Linked DNA regions of Homo sapiens: region 1 is linked to region 2. Evidence: fine-mapped expression QTL. A gene starts in region 2. The other region holds a variant in brackets. All regions are shown on one strand. Distances are from middle to middle.

What was found. PIP is the estimated chance that this variant, and not a neighbour inherited with it, causes the effect.
Region 1: its variant is fine-mapped to the expression of SCAF8 in whole blood (TOPMed, PIP above 0.99).

Annotation. Positions count from the first base shown.
Region 1 is chr6:154,849,080-154,857,416 of GRCh38, reverse strand. It overlaps MIR1273C (microRNA 1273c), which reads right to left and starts at 4,057; the gene lies at 3,981-4,057. The variant T/C (reference allele first, on the strand shown) is at 3,237.
Region 2 is chr6:154,728,320-154,736,656 of GRCh38, reverse strand. It overlaps SCAF8 (SR-related CTD associated factor 8), which reads right to left and starts at 3,241. Exons shown (of 20, transcript NM_014892.5): 1 at 2,727-3,241. The coding sequence starts at 2,756. RefSeq lists silencers at 2,469-3,068, 3,219-3,338, 3,369-3,608 and an enhancer at 2,705-3,208.

The sequences.
Region 1 (8,337 bases), 120 kb before region 2:
TCACTGCAACCTCTGCCTCCAAAGTTCAAGCGATTCTCCTGTTTCAGCCTCCCAAGTAGCCGGGATTACAGGCGCACACCACCACGCCCAGCTAATTTTTTTGTAGTTTTAGTAAAGACAGGGTTCCACCATGTTGGTCAGGCTGGTCTCAAACTCCTGACCTCAAGTGATCCACCCACTTCAGCCTCCCAAAGTGCTGGGATTACAGGCGTGAGCCACCGCGTCCAGCCTGTGTCTGGCTTCTTTTACTTAGCACAGTATCATCAAGATTCAACCATGCTGTGGCATGTGTTAGTACCATGCATTACTCTTTAGGTCTTCAAAACAAACACTTAAGCTCAACACAATAATTGGCCCATTTTACATTAAAAAAAAAAAAAACTGAGACAATGAGACATGAAGTAACTGGCCCTCTTTGAGTCTCTCTGAATTCAAATTTGTTCATTGCATTTCTATAGAGATGTGTAAATTGTAAACATTATATACCAACTTATATGGAATAAAGTATACATTAAAAAAGAAAACTGCTACGTAGGCCCATGACTATAAGTCACAATTTCTTTTAAATTTTTTCTTTTCTAAAAAATACAGCCAGTGATCTCTATGGTGTTTTCAAACTCCAAGATATTGTTAAAACATTAAAGGCTTATTCACTTTCTCTTCAACTCTGATCTGGTGCCCAATCTTTCAGAATAAAAGACTAATTACTAAAGATCATTGATATCATGATATATTGTTGAGAATATGGCTTCATAAAGTATACAGTGAACTCAACAGGTCAACATAGCAATAACGTAGTTCATAGTATGAAAAGGAACTCAGTATTTACTTATATTGTCTGTAAATATTACCTGTTTATATTGCAACAAATCAAAAAGTAGCAAACATCATTTTTAGGGTTACAGAATTTTTTTAAAAGTCTCTCTGGAAAGATCCTGACAGTTGCACATGAGGACACTTCCAGGAAGAATTATGGATGAGTTCTTGACGAACTGAGCCAGAATGTTATATATAACTGAACACTTCAAACTCAGTGTAAAATCTGCCCAGCAGCAGTCAGTAGATAATCTTTCTGGTCTTTTGGTAACCTTAAGGATGGACTGACTGACTTAAAATTGTCTGTCAGCATGTGTAGGTGTCTGCCATAGGTAATAACATAGATGTAAATGGCAGCTGGTGTATGAAACACCCTAACTGAATACTGTATTTGGAAAAAGCAAGCTGAATTGCTCAGAAAAGGCAAATATAATACATAAAAGACTGAAGAAGAAAGAAGGGAGTAAAGCAGTCTATATATTTATTGTAGAGCAGAATACATATTTATCGCAACATTATGTTACGTTATCTTTAATCAGAAATAGCATTTTAAAGATGTGACTTAAAAGAGTCTGAAAACTTCACTGAATTATATTTGAAAAAAACACCCCAAGACATTTTAGTAAGACTTAAAACACAAATTGAAATACCAATGTAGAGTTTATATTTATAAAAATAAGAATCAGCATTGTGAAGCATGGTAACTCCTTAATGGAAACTAACCAGAAGTGAGAATTAAAAAAAAAAAAAAATTTAAATATAGTTTGGGACAGAGAATTCTGAATCATATAATTTTAATTAAGGTAAACAGCCTATGTTATCAGCAATTGCTCTTCTAGAGTAACGCTATAAAATAGGACCTCCTGGAAATGTTCTGTACTTGTGCCGCTCAATTTGGTAGGCACTAGCTAATGTGGCTGTTGAGCATTTAAGTGTGACTGGTGTGACTGAGGAACTGAATTTTTAATTTTTTATAAATTTAAATAGCAATAGGTGACTAAAGGCTACCATACTGGACAGTACAAGTCTTGAGTAACACGTGACATCATGCTGTAAAAGGACCCTACCATTACTGTTCCGGAAACTTTCAAAAGTTAAAGAGGAGACTAGGGTTATTCATGTTGGGTGGGCAGGGAAGGGACAATAGGAGAAAAGAAATGTCCAAAGAAACCTAAATTTTACCTCCATGATTTTAGCAATGTTTCCTTCAAATCCATGGACTAGGGCTACGAATATTAAAAATAAAATAAATAAATAAAGAAGAAAGGGAAGCAGAAATCACAAAGACAGAAGGAAAGATTTCCTAAGTAATGGCCACTAAGTATTAGCAGCAGTCAACATTTATTATGCAGTCTGTTTTATGTATTGTACTAAGCACTGCACATGTATTTTCATTTGACCCTCAAAATGAGTCTTCCAGGTACTTTTTATTTCTAGTTTTATAGATGAGGATATTGAGACTTAGGAAGTTAATTTGCTGAAACAAAAATGCATCTTCTAATGAAAATCTAGCAACTAGCATCCTTTCTCTATGTTCTAGCTGTATCTTACGTACCCAATCTGTTACAGCAATTCATACATTATATTGAAATAGAATTTACTGGTTGTTTCTCACTAAAAGGTAAACTCCTTGAAGGCAGGAACTGTGTTCTGTCAATAACGTAATATCTTTCTCAATTACCTACTGTCACCAATTTTTATCAAGGCATCTGAAATATATATATTATTCAATAAGTATTTGCTGAATTGAGTATGAATTTGTTTCTACATTCCAATGATAAACATGTGGTAACACACTCTCTTTCTCTCAACCCTCAGGCATCTATATTTGAGTTTTGAAACAGGTTGAAAGTCTGTTTAAAATAGCATTTTGTAAACTATTTCAAATAATCTAGAAAGAAACTTGGAACTCTTATAATCCGATAAAAACATTTAACTTTAAGCTATTTTTTTCAGGCCCATTAATTTAAAATGTCACATTTCCCATATTTTTAGAAATATTTTAATAGAAACTTTAATACTGTGACTGAAACATTTCCTACACAAAAGTTGTGCCATATAACAACATTAACCTCTGTATGTTGATGTGTAAGCACGAAGACATACCTCTTAAGGTACTTGAGCTGAACATAGTGCCTACGTTAACTTTTAAGTAATAAAGCTTTGATGGTTTCCAATCTTTTCATCTTATTTATCAATGACACTTTTTAAAAACCTTTCACATTTTACTGAATTCTATTCTCTCCTAATGGGCACATTGCCAGTATCTACTAAGGTAGAGTGAGGCCTAGGACAAACTTAGGGAAGCCTGTCAAAAAATCAGAAAGAACCAAAGAAGGTATTCCCTCAGTCCTAATCCACAGACTTCCACCTCAACATTTCATGAAATTCAATCTATAGGCAAAATAAAAATATTCATA[T/C]GAGACATGCTCTCAAGGCTCTAATATTACCAGAGATGGTATCAAATAAAACTCTTAAATACACCATGGAGCAGCTCTAGTTAAAAAATGATCTCACCTTCAGAAACAACTGTACATATGACTTCTGCTAACTGTTGTCTTAGGAGGAAACAAAATCATTATTCAGTTTAACTGCTATTTTTAAATTTGTTTCACTTTTCTTGTCACTAAGCTTATTTACAAAATTCTTTTAATCTATAGTAACATCAAAAATAAGACTTCGAATATATGAAAACTTGTGTTTGTTGGGGAAAAGATAAATGAACTACAACTAAATTTTATCACACCTATGAATCACTTGAGGATCTTTTAAAAACGCAGATCCTGATTCGGTGACTCTGGGATGGAGCCTAAGATTCTGAGCATCATAAGCTTCCAAGTGATGCTGAAGTTGCTGGTGCAAGGCTTTGTGTAGCAAGTAACTAATTTTTCCAGATTTCAGTGGTTTGATTCTTCTAGGTTTTGTTTTGAAGACAGGGTCTTGGGCTGGGTGCAGTGGCTCACGCCTGTAATCCCAGCACTTCGGGAGGCCAAGGCAGGTGGATAACCTGAGGTCAGGAGTTCAAGACCAGTCTGGCCAACATGGTGAAACCCCGTCTTCAGAGAAAAAAAGAAAAAAAAAATTAGCCAGGCATGGTGGCAAGCACCTGTGGTCCCAGCTACTTGGTACTGAGGCGGAGGTTGCAGAGAGGTGAGATCATGCACTCCAGCTTGGGCAACAGAACGAGACTCTGTCTCAGAAAAAAAAAAAGACAGGGTCTCGTTTTGTCGCCCAGGCTGCAGTGCAGAGGCGTGAACATAGCTCACTGAAGCCTTGACCTCCTGGGCTCAACTGATCTTCAAGTGATCTGCCTACCTCAGCTTCCCAAGTAGCTGGAACCACCAGGGCACACCACCATACCTGGCTAATATTTTTAGGTTTTTTGTAGAGATGGAGTCTTACGTTGTTGCTCAGGCTGGTCTCGATCTCCTGGGCTTAAGCAATCTTCCTACCTCAGCCTCCCAAAGTGCTGGGAGTGTACTGTGCCCAGTCTCTTCTCGTTTTTTAAATGTTCATTTATGCTTTCAACAAATTTTTACTAAATGTGTACTATGAGTCAGACATAAGCATTAATAAGATCTCTGTCCTCAAAGAGCTCATTTGCTTAAAATCAAAAAAGCAAACAGGTCAACAAGTAGGAGTCTATACGGTATAGATGGGGACAGCATTTCAGGGAGAAGAAACAGTCAAGCAGTAAAAGCACTCTGGAGGAACTGCTAAGGGTATCAAATTGCTGAAACACATCGTATTTACAGCAGAGATCAGATAAGAAACTGGAAAAGTAAACAGAGTTAGGTCATGATGAGTCCAGCAAGTCAGAATAAGCAGTTTAAATTTTATTTGGTAGGTTACCACAGAAATGAAGAACTTTTGGTAGGTGTGTTCAGATGTGTATTACAACATTAATGATCGTATAAACTAATAGCAGCTAACATTATTTACCCAGAAACTGTTTCAAGAGCTTTACATGTACTCAGTCACTTAACTCTACATCAACCTTATAAAATTGGTACTAACATGTTCATTCCCACTGAGAATTCTGAAGCACCAAAAAGAAAAATGATTTGCCCTCAATTCAAACTCTGGCAACGTAAGCTCCAGATGCTACGCTCTCTCTTCACCTAGGAAAATTCTGGAAAAATTACTCTGGTAAGCATTGCAGAAGTTGTGTTTGTCAGTGTTGAGCCTGGAAGATAGTTTTGAAGCCACTGGAACTGTCAACGAAGGACTGAATCAAGGCCGGGCGTAGTGGCTCACGCCTGTAATCCAACACTTTGGGAGGCCAAGGTGGGCAGATCACGAGGTCAGGAGTTCGAGACCAGCCTGGCCAACATGGTGAAACCCTATCTCTACTAAAAATACAAAAATTAGCTGGGCATGGTGGCATGCGCCTGTAATCCCAGCTACTTGGGAGGCTGAGGCAGGAGAATCGTTTGAAACTGGAAGGCAAAGGTTGCAGTGAGCCAAGATCATGCCACTGCACTCTAGCCTGGGCAACAAGAGCGAAATTCCGTCCCCCGCAAAAAACAGGACTGAACCAAGGCAAAGGCAATGGAAATGCAAATTTCAGTTATGTTTAGTGAGTAAAAATCCTAACCACTTTGTTACTAAGGGATGAGAGCAAAAGAGAATAGTTTCCTAGTCTCTAACTTGGGAGATGGAAAGAATGGGAATGTCAACCACTGGGAAAAGAGAAAACATTTTTGGCGGGAATTAGGAAGAGAAAATATAGAGATTAAGCCTGAGATACTTATAAGCTATCTAGGTAGAAAGTCAGGCAGACCTGAGTATCAATGGTGTACTCACTGGTATGTTGGTCCTAAGTGAGCTCATGTGGGCATGAACATGTGTGAACAGATGGAACCACATGGGAAGTTGTAGAATTCAAAAAAGAAACACTGACGATGGGCACAGGAGAGTGGTCTGCAAAGTCAAGGGAGTAGTTTCAAGAAAGTAGTCACTAACATTAAATCTGTGGTGCTATCAAGTAAGATAAGCAATGAAAATGGCTGCTAGATTTGGTCAATAGATCACTAGTGACTTTGGAAAGAAATTTCAATGGATTGGTGGGGTCAAAAGTCAACGACAGTGCACTAAGGAATAAAAGATGAAGAGACTGGGATAAATGAAAACACTCTTCCCAAAGATCATTCTACAAAAGAATAAACAGACCAGTAACTAGAAAAGAGAGAGGTTTTATTCTTTTTTATAAGTGAGAGATTTGAGCACATTAATAGCAACACCTGGTGTCAGTGAAGAGAGAGAGTTTTAAAAAAATACAGGAAGGCTGGGCGCGGTGGTTCACGCCTGTAATCCCAGCACTTTGGAAGGCCGAGGCAGGCGGATCACCTGAGGTCGGGAGTTCAAGACCAGCCTGACCAACATGGAGAAACCCCGTCTCTACTAAAAACACAAAATTAGCCAGGCGTGGTGGCGCATGCCTGTAATCCCAGCTACTCGGGAGGCTGAGGCAGGAGAATCACTTGAACCCAGGAGGCGGAGGTTGCAGTGAGCTGAGATGCACCATTGCACTCCAGCCTGGGCAACGAGAGTGAAACTCCATCTAAAAATAATAATAAAAAATTAAAAAATACAGGAAAGAGAAGACATTTGATGATGCAGTGTTCTGAGTGAACCAGGATAATTAAAAATTTGCTCAGGACCTACAGCGTGTTATGTCTAAAACTAGAGCAAGGTTTCCCAGCCTGGGCACTCCGGACATTTGGGGACAGTTCTTTGTTATGGGGTGGTGCCACCCTATGCGCTATAGAATATTTAGCAGCACCCTAATCTCTAATATTCACTGGATGCCAGCAGTACCCCACACCAAGTTGTGATAACCAGAAAGTGTCTCCAAAAACTGCTAACTGTCCCCTGGGCGGAGAAAAAGCAAAATCAACTCTAGCTGAGAACCACTGGTCTTGAGGCAGAGACCAGATCATTTAAATGAGTTGAGAGGTTACTGAAACAAATTACTATAGTCCCATCTACTAGTTACATAAGGAAAAGAGGCAAGTTTCTCTGCTGGGAGGGGAGTAAGATGGTAAAGGTGGCATGTGTTGTGGTGAGTAGAAAAGTTTTGAAGTAACTTGGTGAAATTCACCTACGGGAAGGCAAAACTGGGTATCAGAAATACTTTTCCTCCTCCCAGACTTAAAAGGCAAGTGTATGTCTCGTCTCTTTATGGGCTCTCCACAAAACAGTACACAAAAGGAACCTGAGGCATGAAGAAGGAACTGAAGGACCTTATCAAAATATTATTTCCAACAACTTAAGAAATGGGGTCATCCTGAAAAGTGTTCTGACCCTGAGAACCCACCTTTTTGTTTGCCCAAAGAAGAGTTTTAAGGTTAGAAATTGAATCTATCTTTTTTTAACCAGAGTATACAATTTGATGATAATTTTGTAAAGTCTTCAATAGGAAGGCTTCTATATTTTATTTACCCCAAACCCTATCCATTACAATCAAAACTTTGATTTTTAAGACACAAAAATAATCTGGTGTTTAAAATTAGGCATCATCTTTGAAACACTGTCACATTAACTTTCCTATACTTTTGGAGATGAGTCCGTATTATTACTAGTATTTGTACCTTGTGTCCTGAAAGCTTAATTACTGCACACTGTAAGAAACAACGGATCCAAAGATGTTGTAACTAATTGAATCTCCCTTCAACTTTATCTTCTAAATACAGTCTTTACTTCTTAAAAATTTGTTTTAACAATCTTAAACTTCCTGAGAAGGTTGAAAATACACTTGCTCACAATACAGCTTATGAGTTCCATGGCACTCATAAAAGTGAAGAGACCAGATGTAAGATAACAACTCCTAGCATTTGTCAGCATTATTAACAAGGAAAGTGATCTGAGAGAAACTTATGTCTTTAAATATCTCCCAGCCAGCACAGTGGCCCCCACCTGTAATCCCAGCTACTTGAGAGGCTGAGGTGGGAGGATCACTTGAGCCCAGGAGTTCAAGGCTGAAGCAAGCTATGATTGTACCACTGCACTCCAGCCTGGGTGACAGAGCGGAATCATTAAAAACAGTAACAACAAACCAAAAACCTCCAAAGACATAAAACTATAAAACCATGCCCTAGAAAGTTCTCTTTTTCCTACAATCACAAAGTGACTGAAGCACCTTTATGTGCAGCTCACAGAACTGAATTTGCACTTAGCAATTTTCCTTAAGAGATCTAATGCATCTCAACGTGAGTATCACTCTAAAATATGCTGAAACAACAATCTCAGATAGGACAGATTCTCACCTGTGATAAACCTCAAAATCTGCACATTTTCAAAAATGTAACATTTGTTATTAGAAGCCAACTGTTGGTCATAATCAGTTTCATTATGGCTAAATAAAATCCCTGTAGGCTCTACAACCATTTGAAGTTAACTTGAGTATGAAAAGAGAAGTGCTTTGGATACATTACCAATTCTCTTCCAAACAGAGAAAATTCAAGCTGAATTCTCTTTCAGATCTGCTACATGTACTAATGAAAGGACAAAAAAAAAAAG
Region 2 (8,337 bases):
TCTTCCCTACTGTGACCAACCATAGTGCACTAACCACTTGTTTACATCTAATATTTGGGAGCTACTGTTTAAAACGTCATGGATGGGCCAGGCGCAGTGGCTCACGCCTGTAATCCCAGCACTTTGGGAGGCCGAGCCGGGTGGATCACCTGAGGTCAGGAGTTCGAGACCAGCCTGGCCAACGTGATGAAACCCCATCTCTACTAAAAATACAAAAAACTAGCTGGGCATGGCGGTGGGTGCCTGTAATCCCAGCTACTCCGGAGGCTGAAGCAGGAGAATTGCTTGAACCCAGGAGGTGGAGGTTGCATTGAGCCAAGATCTCGCCATTGCACTCCAGCCTGGGCAACAAGAGCAAAACTCCGTCTCCAAAAAAAAAAAAAAAAAAAAAGTCTTGGATGGCCCTTTGAGGGGGAGGACCACATTATTAGGAACCCCCCCAAAGACAGACACCCAACAAAGTGTGTGTGGGGAAGAGGGTGGCGGCGGGAATTAAATCCAATGAGGGCAAAAAACAAAACAAAACGAAATCCCCCAGGCGTGGTGGCTCACATCTGTCATCCCAGCACTTGGGATGCCAAGGTGAAAGGACCGCTTGGGCCCAGGAGTTCAAGAACAGCCTGGGCAACATAACAAGACCTCCTCTCTATAAAAAATAAAAATGACGGGCATGGTGACACTGGCCTGTAATCTCACCTACTTGGGGGGCTGAGGTGAGAGGAGGACCCCTTGGGCCCGGGAGGCAAAGGATGCAGTGAGCCAAGATCACACCACTGCACTCCAGCCTGGGTGACAGAATGACACTCCTCAAAAAAAGAAAGATAGCTATGAAAAAAAATGAAACACCAGGCGCAGTGGCACACGCCCATAATCTCAGCACTTTGGGAGGCCAAGGCGGGTGGATCACTTGAGGTCAGGAGTTTGAGAACAGCCTGGCCAACATGGTGAAACCCCATCTCTACTAAAAATACAAAAATTAGCGGGGCGTGGTGATGTGCGCCTGTAATCCCAGCTACTCGGGACACTGAGGCAGAAGAATCGCTTGAAACCGGGAGGTGGAGGCTACAGTGAGCTGAGATGGTGACACTCCAGCCTGGGTAACAAGAGCGAAACTCTGTCTCAAAAAAAAAAAAAAAAGAAGATTCCCAAGTCTATTGCTCTAATTTATCAATGTTAAAAATAAAAAATGTAGTATTAAAAAAGAAAATGCTTTCCAAAAAAAGTTATGTATCACTGCTATTGAAAATAGCCCAAATATTATCTACCGTTTAGCCTCTTAGCTAAGATTCCCAAATACTGTTTTTCTTTTTAAAGAAATTAAAACAAGATAAAACTATGCAACGGCATTTAAAAGTACTGTCCTATTTGGGCCGTCACAGCAAAAAGCCTCGTATTTTAAGAGGTAAATATTAAAGATACTCTTTAACAATCATAGTATCGAATAAAGTATTGGCACTTTAAGAGTTCATAAAATTTATGCTAATTTAGTTACCAGCATAATTACACTTTTTCTTTTTCTTTTTTTTTTTTTTGTAGACAGAGTCTCACTCTGTCACTGGGCTGGATTGCAGTGGCGCAGATCTCGGCTCACTGCAACCTCCGCTTCCCAGGTTCAAGCGATTCTCCTGCCTCAGCCTCCTAAGTAGCTGGGATTACAGGTGCCTGCCACTACGCCCAGCTAATTTTTTGTATTTTTAGTAGAGACAGGGTTTCACCACGTTGGCCAGGCTGGTCTTGAACTCCTGACCTCGTGATTGGCCCGCCTCGGCCTCCCAAAGTGCTGGGATTACAGGCCTGAGCCACTGTTCCCGGCCATAATTACACTTTCCAAGGCGTACGGGTAGGGATACTAATGCTGACTGTGCAGATGTGTACTTGCTATGTTTGATGTTTACATTAAGGCCTATTGAAGTCGGAGTTTAAAAAGAAATTGAATACATCAAAACCTGTCTTCTTCCAGACTAGTAAATTCAACTACACAGTGAAAATGGAATCTGCTTTTTAAAATCTTGTTTGACACGTGAATGAACCAGCGAGAAATGTTTCCCCCATAATCTTCCATCTCTCGATGCACAGATCTCTCCCTACCATTTGTCTTTATGTCGTGATGGATTAGAAGAGGAGCGAGTAAAAATAAAAGATATTGCAGAATAACCTTTGCCTGCCTACCAACCATCCAATTAGCTCAAGTCCCTAGCTGGCAAATTACCTAGTCAACAATGCCTCAATTATAAACACTACGTGTAACGTGACCACAGATCAACACCCCGTAGGTTCATTTCCCCCACCGCCCCCAATCGGTGTTAGCCTCAGTGAGGACCCGGGAAGGTCTGGAGAGTCATGTCCAGCGTCCACTTAAATCCTCAAAGGCCCAGGAAGGAGGTGGGCGGGCCAGGCCTCGGCGGAACTGACCTCGAGGGACCTGTCGGGAGTCTCCGGGTGAGGGCCCAACCGGGTCTTTCCCTCCGAGCTCGCAGCCATTCCATAGGACGCCGGAGACGCCAGAACCTCCCTCCGCCCCAGGGCGGCCCTCCCCCAACCCTCCTCCCGGACCCGGGGGAGGGGCACCCAGAGGAGAAACACCCCTCCCCCACGGGCACTGCTAGGCCACCGCTCACCCCACCCTTAAAAAACCCGCAGGCCCGCGCCCACCCTCCGGGCCCCGGCCTCGACCAGGGGTGGGGGCGGTGCGGGCAGGAGCAGGGGAACCCGGCTGCCATACCAACCTCGCTATTGAAGGTCTTCACGGCCTCCATGTTGTCGCTGCGGAGGCCCCGAGCCCGGCGGCGGAAGAGGCGGCGGCCACTGCACTGGGTGGGGAGAGCGAGACGCGGGCTGCTGCGTGGCCGCGAGGAGGGGGCGCTGGCGGGAGAGCGGGCCGCTGCGACCTCGGGGCGGAGTGGAAGGGCACGCGCTGGCGGGGAAGGGCTCCCTCAGCGGCAGAGCGGCACCGGCATGGCCGCTAGGGCGGGGGGAGCGCCGTTCTAGGGAACAGAGGCGCTGCCGGGGCGGGTCGGCGGCGGGCGGGGGAGGGGCTGGGCCGCGGCGCCTTCTCTTCTCTGCCCCGCTCCGTTTCGGTCCCCCTCCCTCTAGCCCCTTCCCCTACACTCTCCACTCCCTTCTGCCCCTTCCTCCGACGGGCTCCTGTTTCACCTCCCCGCCGCTCGGGCCGCAGGAACCAGCCCCGCTCGGCGAAGACAGAGGAGGAAGCGCTGGCAGCAGCGGCTGCGGCATCCAATATGGCGGACTCGAGTCGGGCCGCGCAGTTCGGGGATCCGCGGCGCCGGCTAGCGCGCCCCCTGGCGACTGGACCGTGCGAGCCCCGGCGGCCGCGCGGAAACCATCGAGCGCGCTGGGGCCAGAGCGTCGCCGCCCGTAGGCCCGGCTGGGCTCCGCTGCCCTCGCCTTGGCTCCGGGGCCGCCCGCGCCTCGCCCCCTCCCCGCGCCCCGCGGACGCGGGAGTGAGCGCTGCGGCATCCGGGGGAACGCCGCGGCGGGTTTGTACAGCAGGAGGAGGCAACTCCAAAGCGCGGCTCTAATAAGAGCCTAAACGTGCCCAAGAAGCGGCAAGTTGAGGAAATGTGCGCGTTTCCCTTGTTTCCCGGTGGATTGGTCCTTTTGCACAAGCGGCAGGGTTTAGTTGCTTTTCACAACTTTACTGGACAGTGCCCTAAACATCCGCAGCCTTCGCCAAGAAAAAGTTCCTGGTCATCTATTTAGTAACTGAACTCAATTGTTTTAACTGCACAGGGAGGGAACATTAGAAACCAAAGCCTTGGATTCGGGTTGGGGCAGGCGGCGAGGGAAACAGGCATGCAGCAGCTCCTTGCAGGAAATGCCCGCTGCATAGGATCCAGGGACTGGAGTGGCACAATGAGCGCATTTGTCTGCAAGGCGGGAAGGGGACCCTAGAATGCACAACACTTGAATAGGTGAAAAGGGAACCCGTCTGTTTCGGAAGATGAATTGTTCTAAAGGAATTTTGCCCTAGGATACTTGGAGTAAAGGTAAATACAGTATTTCTTAGATGGATTAGGAGATGCTGCTAGTAAAAAGCCTTCTCTCTCGTGCAGCGCAAAATAAGGTACCAATTTAAAAATACTTATCGATGTTAAAAGATAGGGATGTATCGTGGAACCCCGAACACTGCTGTCCTCTTGTTGAAAGTCATTTTTCAACAATCATTCCCAAATTCACTCAAAGGGAGAGAGGAACATAAGGGCAGGATCGTACTTTTGGAGAGTTTTGGAATCAAGGTAGTTCCTAAGAGCTGTGCGCAGAGCCCCGTGAAACTGGGAAAGTAAGGCCCTTCTTGAGGTTTCAGAGCCTTCATTCTACTTCATTGGCAGCTTTAGTATAGGGCCTGGCTACTGAGAAGGTAACAGGGATAACTCACCAAGTGCTTTTATATTTACTTTCAAAATCTCAAATTCTGTCACAGATTTCTCCACCGTCTCCCATCTTCAGGCCTAGCCATGATCTTTTACTGACACTTGCAGTAGCCTCCTAACTGGTCCCTTGCTTGTCTTCCTACAGTTCATTTCCAGACAGTAGCCGAGGGATGTTTTTCTTAGATAAATCAGATCAGGTCACTCCCTTACTTAAATCCCTTAAATACTTTCTCATTGCCCATTTGATACCATCATAACTTCTCACCATGGCCTGAAGGCCCAGCCCAGCCTGCCGCAGCTCACACCACCTTCCCTTGCTCCCTGACTCTCCTCCTGCCACACTGGCCTTTCTGTTACTTGACAAGAAGCAGTGTTTTCATAGGTAGGACAATTGTGTCTCTTCACACAGGGTGCTGTTGCTCTTGTCCTTTCCATAGCTGACTCCTCCTCCTTCAATCTTCCTGAAAGAGGTCCCCTAATCACTCCATCTAAAGGAGCATTTACTGTGGCTTGAGAAAGTACTGCACTCAGTTCTGTGCATGCCAGGTTCTCACAATCAGAAGTCACTGCTTTGAGGCCGGGTGTGGTGGCTCTCGCCTGTAATCCGAGCACTTTGGGAGACCGAGGCGGGTGGATCACCTGAGGTTAGGAGTTCGAGACCAGCCTGGCCAACATGGTGAAATCCCGTCTGTACTAAAAATACAAAAAAAGTAGCCAGGCGTGGTGGCACGCCCTTGTAGTCCCAGCTACTCGGGAGGCCGAGGCAGGAGATTCGCTTGAACCCGGGAGGCGGAGGTTGCAGCGTGCCGAGATCGCGTGACTGCACTCCAGCCGGGGCAACAAGAGTGAAGCTCTGTCTCAAAAAGAGAAACAAAAAAGAAAAGAACGGAAAAAAAAGGCGCTGCTTTGGCCTGTGAGGGATTATTTATTAGGTCATACATGAAATGAGTGTTGATGGAATTACTTAGGCCTGAGAAATTAAAATGCAATACAAGCTAAAGGATAAAATCAGTGGTTAACATGCTTCACAATTTGATTTAATAAAGCTTCCGCATTCAGAATGGTAACAGAGGGCATAGTTTGATCAGGGTAAGCAGAGGGGGAAGATACAGAGAGCAGCCTAAACACAATCTTTTTTTTTGCGGGGTGTTGGGGCGGGGCTGGACGGAGTCTCGCTCTGTAGCCAGGCTGGAGTGCAGTGGCACGATCTCGGCTCACTGCAACCTCCACCTTCTGGGTTCAAGCGATTCTCGTGCCTCAGCCTCCTGAGTAGCGGGGATTACAGGCACGTGCCACCACACCCAGCTAATTTTTGTATTTTTAGTAGAGATGGGGTTTCACCATGTTGGCCAGGATGGTCTTGATCTCCTGACCTTGTGATCCGCTTGCCTTGGCCTCCCAAAGTGCTGGGATTATAGCCGCGCCCGGCTTTTATTTTTTATTTATTTATTTTTTGAGACTGAGTTTTGCTCTTGTCGCCCAGGCTGGAGTGCAATGACGCGATCTCGGCTCACCGCAACCTCCGCCTTCCGGGTTCAAGCGATTCTCCTGCCTTAACCTCCCAAGTAGCTAGGACTACAGGCAACCGACGCCACGTTCGGCTAATTTTTGTATTTTTAGTAGAGACGGGGTTTCACCATGTTGGCCAGGCTGATCTCAAACTCCTGACCTCCAGTGATTCACCCTCCTCGGCCTCCCAAAGTGCTGGGATTACAGGCATGAGCCACCTCGCCCAGCCTAAACACAATCTTAATATAAGAAGGCGATAAAGCAAGAGAAGGGTTAGAGGGGAGCCTGGGGTTCCAGTGCAATGACTATATACAAAATTTATACACAACTACATACAGAGTGTGAAAACAGTACCCGTGTGTGTGTGTCTGTGTGTGTGTGTGTATGTATGTACGCTAGGATTCTGATTGCCAGTATAACCAGCCAATTTGAGCTAGTTTAAGCATAAAATAATAATTCATTATTACAGTACAGGTTTTTCTCATGTAACCAAAAGTCAGAAATGTAGCTGAGTCCAAGGGAGGGACTTGAACCAAAATAGAAAACCTAAGAGGCAATGTAATCTCTGCTTATCTGCTTAATTTTTCTATTGCTTTACCCAATTCTCTGTTTTATCTAGTGGAATCTATTACTTTTGGTTTTATAGTTCTAGACAACTTGAGGACCTGAATGACGACCTCTTCCTTCCCAAATCCAAATTCCCAAGGAAAGAAATAAGGAATTTCATTGACCCAGCTTGGATTAGGTGACCATCACCAAGAAACTGACCACTAATTTGGTTCTCAAAAGACTGATAGGAAATAGTGGTCAGGAGTACTTCAGTCATTGGAAGAGATATTTCATAATCTAAAGTTTCTGGTGTTCTCCTGTAAATGTTATCATCAGATTGTCCCTGAGGACTAAATAGTTTCTGGGAGTAACTTATAGAAATGAATTCAGCCATGGCCAAGAGGTCAGAGTCAAAAATAGTCTAGAGCAGTAGTCACCATAGAACTTTCTGGGGTCATGGAAATGTTCTGAATCTGTGCGGCCCAATTCAGTAGCACTAGCCCTGTGTGGCTACTGTGCACTTGAAATACGGCTAGGGCAGCTGAGGAAGATAATTTCCAATTTTATTTTACTTTAATTGACTCATGTTTAAGTATGTGGCTAGTGGCTACCATATTGGAAAGCATAGGTCTAGCTAGAGGGTACTCGCTCCCATGGACAGGGCACTTCTTAGATAAGGGATAATTGTGAGGTAGCACTAAGCAAAAAAAAAAAAAAAAAAAAAAAAAAAAAAAACAACGTGAATTATCAGCTATTAGAAGGAATAATATATGTTTATGAGGTACTTTTAAAACGGGGCAAAAACCTGGAGCATTGTCTAAATTAAAACTAATTCCCACCCAATTGGAAAAAAGAAAACTTAGGAAGCAAACATTCCAGAATGCTTAGTAAATTAGGGTATAGAGACAAATGAATTATTATACTACCAATAAAATGATTTTTAAAAGATTGTGGGAAACTATTTGGCAGTTCCTCAAAAAACTAAGCATAGAATTGCCATATGATCTAGCAAGTTCACGTATGTGTATGTAGCCAAAAGAACTGAAAGCAGAGACTTGAACATGCATGTTCAGAACAGTGTTACTCACAATCGTTAAAAGGTGGCAGCAACCCAAATGTCCATTGATGGATGAATGGATAAACAAAATGTGGTACAATGGAATATTCAGCCTTAAAAAATGAAGGAAATTCAAGGCCCAGCACGGTGGCTCACGCCTGTAATCTCAACACTGTGGGAGGCCAAGACAGGCAGATCACCCGAGGTCAGGAGTTCGAGACCAGCCTGGCCAACATGGTGAAACCCCATCGCTACTAAAAATACAAAAATTAGCTAGGCGTGGTGGTGCGCTCCTGTAATCCCAGCTACTCGGGAGGCTGAGGCAAGAGAATTGCTTGAACCTGGGAGGCGGAGGTTGCAGTGAGTCAAGATCATGCCATTGCACTCCAGCCTGGGTGACAAGAGCAAAACTCCGTCTCAAAAAAAAAAGAAGGAAATTCTGATACATGCTATAACACAGTTTTACCTTGAAGACATTGTGCTAAGAGAAAAAAAGCCAGTTACAAAAGAACAAGTACTGTATGATTCCGCTTATATAAGCTACCTAGAATAGTCAAACTCAGAGAGACAGAAAGCAGAATGGTAGTTTCCAGGGGTTGGGGGAGAGAGAAACCAGGAGTTGTCATTTAATAGGTACAGAACTTCAGGTTGGGAAAATGAAAATTTCTGGAGGTGGCTGGTGGTAACGGTTGCATGACAGTGTGAACGTACTTAATGCCATAGGGCTGTACACTTAAAATTGGTTAAAAATAAGTTTTATATGTATTTAATCACAATTTTTCAAATTTAAAGAAATGGTTAGAATAGGACTAGGAATATAAAAGAAATGTA